2 linked regions of the Homo sapiens genome follow. The protein of the gene in region 1 interacts with the protein of each later gene in a pairwise test. Each region holds a gene or a part of one and is shown on either strand. Other genes may lie near its edges.

Evidence for each region. Proteins that work in one complex are often made in the same cells at the same time.
Region 2: the proteins of KCTD6 (region 1) and TBC1D2 interact in binary tests that used the Homo sapiens proteins (3 or more experiments, as listed by UniProt).

Annotation. Positions count from the first base shown.
Region 1 is NC_000003.12:58,498,596-58,502,095, forward strand, and holds part of KCTD6 (BTB/POZ domain-containing protein KCTD6), read left to right. Parts: exon of another isoform or gene 1-117; 5' UTR 118-160; coding exon 161-187; intron 188-2,350; coding exon 2,351-3,037; 3' UTR 3,038-3,500. UniProt on the Homo sapiens protein: Probable substrate-specific adapter of a BCR (BTB-CUL3-RBX1) E3 ubiquitin-protein ligase complex mediating the ubiquitination and subsequent proteasomal degradation of target proteins.
Region 2 is NC_000009.12:98,249,150-98,252,649, reverse strand, and holds part of TBC1D2 (TBC1 domain family member 2A), read left to right. Parts: intron 1-723; coding exon 724-865; intron 866-3,500. UniProt on the Homo sapiens protein: Acts as a GTPase-activating protein for RAB7A. Signal effector acting as a linker between RAC1 and RAB7A, leading to RAB7A inactivation and subsequent inhibition of cadherin degradation and reduced cell-cell adhesion.

The sequences.
Region 1 (3,500 bases):
GAGCAAGGACGAGTAGTTTTTCTGGTGTTTGGCCTCCTCTGTTGGGTGGAAAAAGACTTTCTTCTCTATTTTCCTAGTTATATATGCTATCATATGTCTGTTTTTCTCCTCTTGAAGTTTCCCTGAAACCTGGGCTCTTGAAGACGCATCACTGGAGCAGATGGATAATGGAGACTGGGGCTATATGGTGAGTGCTTCTTGGAGATGCATTTTGAAGGCTGGGGAATTATTTTTGTGTGTCTTTTTATCCTTATGTATTTTTAGGTATATCTTATAAGAAAAGAAAATTGTGAATTTGTGTAACCTCTCTTCCCCCTTTTACTTAGTTTAGATGTATTTTGGAGGCGTTTTTGTCTTGTGTGGTGTTTTTTAAATTTTTATTTAATTTTTTTTATGTGGAGTCTCGCCTTCTTGCCCAGGCTGGAGTGCAGTGGCGCGATCTTGGCTCACTGCAACCTCCACCTCCTAGGTTCAAGAGATTCTCCTGCCTCAGCCTCCTGAGTAGCTGGGATTATCAGCGTGCACCACCACATCTGGCTAATTTTTGTATTTTTAGTAGACACGGGGTTTCACCATGTTGGCCAGGCTGATCTCGAACTCCTGACCTCAAACGATCCTCTGCCTTTGTTTGGTGTTTTAATGGAATCAAACTCAAAATGGATTTTCCAAATACTTTTTATAATCACTGGAGAGGTAACGTGATTTTTTATTTTTTCAAGTGTGTTGCTCTGAAGACTCTTTCTTCATGAATAGTGACTACAAAGGGATCTAGTGAGTTTGGAGGATATTTTGTTGTGGTTTGGGAGATTAATGGTTGAGAAAGTGCCTCTTCTCCCCACTTGCATTTTTTGTGTGTGCATATGTCTCCCTATTTTTCTATTCCTTTGGTGTAAGGTATATTTTACTTGCCTATACCTGAAGTCTCTGTCTGCCTTTCTTTTTTCTTTCTTCCTTTTTTTTTTTTTTTTTCGAGACAGGGTCTTGCTCTTTTCCCTAGGCTGGAGTGCAATGGCGTGATCTCGGCTCATGACTTTCCAAGCTCAGGTGATTGTCCCACCTCAGCCTCCTGAGTAGCTGAGACGATAGGTGGGCACCAACATGTGTGGCTAATATTTTGTATTTTTTGTAGAGATGGAGTTTTGTCATGTTGCCCAGGCTGGTCAGCAACTCCTGGGCTCAAGTGATCCACCCTCCTTGGCCTCCCAAAGTGCTGGGATTACAGGTGTGAGCCACCACACCTGGCCTATTTTTTTCGTAAATAGTATTTCTAAAACTGAAGGTATGTTTTTTAAGAGAAGCTTGCTTCTCAGAATTAAAGGCCAGATTGCAGCATTAATGTTACAAAAGTGAATACACTATCAGATTATGAAATTTTATGGCTGCTGTAAGCTTTTGGGTATGTGATGCTTTTCTGGCTTGGTTGTATTGACTAAACTGTATATTTTAACTTAGTATTTGAAAGTATCACTTCCATGAAAAAGTTACCAAGATTAGGTCTGCACAGTTTTTAATTTAATTTAAATAATTTTTTTTTTTTGGAGACAAAATCTCTCTGTGTCGCCCAGGCTGAAGTGAAGTGGCATGATCTTGGCTCACTGCAGCCTGTGCCTCCTGGGTTCAAGTGATTCTCATACCTCAGCCTCCCAAGTAGCTAGGACTACTCAGGCCACCACACCCAGTGAATTTTTTTTTTTTTTTTTTTGTATTTTTAATAGAGATGGGGTCTTGCCATGTTGCCCAGGCTGGTCTTGAACTCCTGAGCTCAGGCAATCTGCCTGCCCCGGCCTCCCAAAGTGCTAGGATTACAGGTATGAGCCACTGTACCTGGCCCAAATTTTTATTTTAAAAACAAATTTCATAGTTTGTTCCTTTTGTTTGAGGGGGAGAAACCAAAGAAATATTGAAAGTAAATGTCTATATTATCAGATCATTTTAATTCTATCTAATGTTAAATTAAATTCAGAAAAATGCAAGCCTTAAAAAAAAATCAGAAAAAAATAAGTGTATTTTAGCGTGGCTTTTCCCTTCCCACATATATTCTGGCCTGAAAACTCTATAGATAATGGGCCTGAAATGATTTGGCTCTGGAAGTCAATGCCCTGTATTCTTAGCATAAGTCTTTAAAGAGAAATTGGATTTCTCCTTTTTTTTTCTATTGAAAGCAAATGTTAGATCACTTCATCTGGGTGGGTTTATTGCTGGTAGTAAAGTCATTTTGCATTAGAGGATTACTAAATACATTATAGCCTGAAAGAATCTTGGGCTTTGCTCAGTATCACTTACTTTCTTAATTTGTCAAAGTTAGTATTTAAAAATTTCAGATGACTGATCATTTCTTTACAAATTTCAGATGACTGACCCAGTCACATTAAATGTAGGTGGACACTTGTATACAACGTCTCTCACCACATTGACGCGTTACCCGGATTCCATGCTTGGAGCTATGTTTGGGGGGGACTTCCCCACAGCTCGAGACCCTCAAGGCAATTACTTTATTGATCGAGATGGACCTCTTTTCCGATATGTCCTCAACTTCTTAAGAACTTCAGAATTGACCTTACCGTTGGATTTTAAGGAATTTGATCTGCTTCGGAAAGAAGCAGATTTTTACCAGATTGAGCCCTTGATTCAGTGTCTCAATGATCCTAAGCCTTTGTATCCCATGGATACTTTTGAAGAAGTTGTGGAGCTGTCTAGTACTCGGAAGCTTTCTAAGTACTCCAACCCAGTGGCTGTCATCATAACGCAACTAACCATCACCACTAAGGTCCATTCCTTACTAGAAGGCATCTCAAATTATTTTACCAAGTGGAATAAGCACATGATGGACACCAGAGACTGCCAGGTTTCCTTTACTTTTGGACCCTGTGATTATCACCAGGAAGTTTCTCTTAGGGTCCACCTGATGGAATACATTACAAAACAAGGTTTCACGATCCGCAACACCCGGGTGCATCACATGAGTGAGCGGGCCAATGAAAACACAGTGGAGCACAACTGGACTTTCTGTAGGCTAGCCCGGAAGACAGACGACTGATCTCCGACCCTGCCACAGGTTCCTGGAAAGACTCTCCAGGAAATGGAAGATACTGATTTTTTTTTTTAAATCACAGTGTGAGATATTTTTTTTCTTTTAAATAGTTGTATTTATTTGAAGGCAGTGAGGACCAGAAGGAAGTTTTGTGCTTTGGCAGACTCCTCCATGTTTTGTTCCCTTCCCCCTGAGTATGCATGTGCCTGTTCAGAGTCTCCAGATACCTTTTTTATAAAAAGAAGTCTGAAAATCATTATGGTATATAATCTACCCTTAACAGAGCTTTTCTTATTACAGTGCTAAAATGATTTCTGATAAAATGGTCCCTAACTCAACTAGAAGGCTAAAAATACAAGAATGAAAGAATAAGCAGAGTACTCATGATGCCTTTGAGAAAAATCAAAACATCATGTAGGGTGACCTAGTTTCCAAACCAATAAATAAGTAGTATTGTAATATTAAAGGA
Region 2 (3,500 bases), on another chromosome or scaffold:
AGAGGTTTAGTTTCTCCATCTGTAGAAAGGGGTGCTCACTCCTGCCTTGCCTCCCTCCTGAAGAATCCAGGAGTTATTGGATGTGAAAGTGGATGTTTGGACCAACCGCCAGCCAGTGCTGGGAGACTAATGACCAGCATTTACCATGAACTTGTTTGGAGGGCCAGAGCACCTGGAAGGTGCCACCATGTTGTCACATGTGCATGTGGCTTTCCAGTCTCCATTCATATCCATGATTCCAGTGCATCCCCAAGGCAAGGATTACTCCTATTCCACAAAAGGCAGCAAAGACTTGGAGATGTCACACAGAGATAGTGATGGTACCAGGACCCCACGCATATCAGAATTCAGTGCACCTCCCCCTCTCACAGCGCCTCCAAATTCCTCTATCCAGTGAGCACATTTTGAGCACCTACTGTGTGTCAGATACTGTGTGATACCCTTGTCTCATTTCATCCTCATCATTGTCCTATGCAATGAGACTTATTGTCACCAGAGTACAGATGAGGAAACTGAGGCCCAGAGCAGCTAAGGAACCGCTGAGTGGGAGACCAGAGCCTGATGATCTTCTGTGGCCAGGAAGCATACATACCTACAGTGACCCCCTTTTTTTTTTCCTGGGAAAGAAAGCATTCCTAAGCCTCCCACAACCTTCCCCTCTTCCTGCACCCAGTGCCACCCTTCAGGCACAGGGCCTTGCCAACTAATCCTTGTGCTTCTCAGGCCGCCACCAAGCAAGCGATGCTGTACTGGCTGCAGCAGCTGCAGATGAAGCGCTGGGAATTCCACAACAGCCCGCCGGCACCTCCTGCCACCCCTGATGCCGCCCTGGCTGGGAATGGGCCCGTCCTGCACCTCGAGCTAGGTACCCAATGGGCTACCCTCCTGCCTGCACACCCAGGGCTCTGGTGATTAAGCCTTTACCCTCCTGCTGGGAATGAGCGGGAGGAGCCCTCTGCTAAGGAAGCAGAGAGCCAGGGATATGACTCAGGATTAGTTAGGGCAAGAATTTGGGCTGAGGCCAGGCTGCCTGGGTTCAAATCCTAGTCCTATATAACTTTAGGCAAGTTGTTTAACCTTTCTGAGCTTGTTTCCTTCCCCATAAGATGAGGTTTATAAATTATCCCTACTTCTTAGGGATGTTTTGAGGATTAAATGAATTCATATACCTAAAATGGTTAGAACAATGCCTGCACATGGTCAGAACCCAATACTTGTGAGCTACTATTGTGATGACTATTATGGAAGGCCTCAAGAAATCAAACTTTCACAGAATTGCTGTGAGGAGGGTTAATAAGAAAATGCAGTGTTGTAGATTTGTGTCGTGAGTTGGGTAGATCAGTGACTTTTTTTTTTTTTGAGATGGAGTCTCACTCTGTTGCCCAGGCTGGAGTGCAATGGTGCAATCTCGGCTCACTGCAACTTCCGCCTCCCGGGTTTAAGCAATTCTCTGCCTCAGCCTCCCGAGGCAGCCTCAGCTGGGATTACAGGCACGTGCCACCACGCCCGGCTAATTTTTGTATTTTTAGTAGAGATGGGGTTTCACCATCTTGGCCAGGCTGATCTTGAACTCCTGACCTCGTGATCTACCCGCCTCAGCCTCCCAAAGTGCTGGGATTACAGGCATGAGCCACCATGCCTGGCCAGATCAATTATTTTTATCGCTGGTGTTCCCATAAGATAGGATCCTTTTCCCCCAGATGACTCACAAATGAAGTTTCTTGATCCCAAATCCTGGATCATCCCAACGTGGAAGAGTCCAGGAGACCACACCCTCCCACCCCCATGCTGCAGCCAGGAACATGATTGGCAGGTTTTAGGATCGGTATGGACCACCTCACAGCTGCCCCTGCAAGAATGTGGAAAATCAGGTCCCAGTACAAAGCCACACTGTGTCTAAAGTGCTTCATGTTCAGTTGACAGGGAGGCCAAATAGGCAAGGGCAGGACTTGTTACCAAGTACCCCCTGGACCTCTGTACCTGGGTGCTTTGCATGTCCAAAGCTGAGTACATCTGCCCCAACCCTTCTCCCCATTTCCCTTCCCTCCTCTCAGTAGATTTCCCCTCTTGTACCCACTAGTAGTTGCCCTCCACCCTTCCTCAATTCCAGCCAGTGAGTCCAGTCAATCACTGTGCTGGCCATTTTTGCCCTCTGACCCATACATCAGACCCAGGCCTTTCTCGCTGCCACTGCCCAGGTCACACCTCATCTCTCAAAGTCACAGTGGCCTCCTCTCCAGTATCCCCATGTGGAGGCCATGCCAGAACCCATCCCCTTCTCTGCAGCCTGAGTGAGCTTTCTTAAACCTGACCCTGAACCCGGTCACTGCCATCCAATGCCACCCACCACCTCACTCCTGCACTCAGGGCTCATCCCTCCTGATCTCACCTCTGCCTGCTCCCCCAGTCCCCACCTTGGGCTTGATGCTTCGGCAGAGTCTCTGCTCTCTCTCCTTTGCCTGGCAAATTCTTGCTTATTCTCTATGGCCAAGCTCCAGCATTGCCTTCTCTTCTTGCCAGCCTCCTCCTGGAAGCCTTCTCAGACTTTGTCAGCTGGATTCTCTCTGGGCCCTCAACACTTTTTTCAAACACTTCAAGGGAGACCTGTTCCATTGTGTTCTATTAATAATTACCCCCGTCCTTGTCCATCTCCACCCGCTAGCCCTTAAGGGTGGGGACTTTTTTTTGGTTGCCTGTGTCACCTCCCTGGTGTCCTGCCTGGCACATTGGATATTTGTGGAATGAATGTGTAAGTCAATACACTAAACTTTATAATTAAATGAGGAAAGGAATGTAAACCCCTTAGCATAACCTCAGGCACATAGTAAGTGCTCAATACATGGGAGTTGTCCTAATAATATTGTTATTCTATGTCTATATGTCTGTGCATAGAACACACCCATGCTATTACTATCATAATAGTATATACACAAACATATATAGGTGCTGTTACTAGTATAATAACTGTTCCTTTTATTCTTAATAATCATTAGTAATTTCTTTGGAGTTTCTTTTGAAGGGTTTCTTTGCTTCTGCTCCAGCCCCCACTCCCCATCTGCCAGGGAGCCAGACAACCCTGGTTTTGCAGAAAACTGCAGCCTGGGTTGATGCTGCTGCAAAGATCAGCATCAGACTAGAGGCCAGCAGAAACCTCTGCAATAATAGAATTCCTGTGTCTTAACTGAAATTTGAAGAAGCAGATTGTGGAAGAACGGCTCTGGGATCCTCAGACCTCTTCTGCTGTGGGGAACCTGTTGCAGGTTCTTTAATTGTGCGGCTTTGCTTCAGCACACACGGCGGGCCTCTTCCAGGCCAGCCCCTGCTGTGGGCATTGGAGAAAGGGGTGGAGTTGCTGTGATGACCTGGGTTCTAGTCTCCTGAGGAGGATGCTGCCTGAGACTCAGGAAGCAGGGACGTGAGCTTCTCCTCTTGAAACCTTTCCTCGCCTTGCAGCAAGCCTGCACTCTCCTCCCAGACCCAGGGCCTGGCAAAACCTTCCC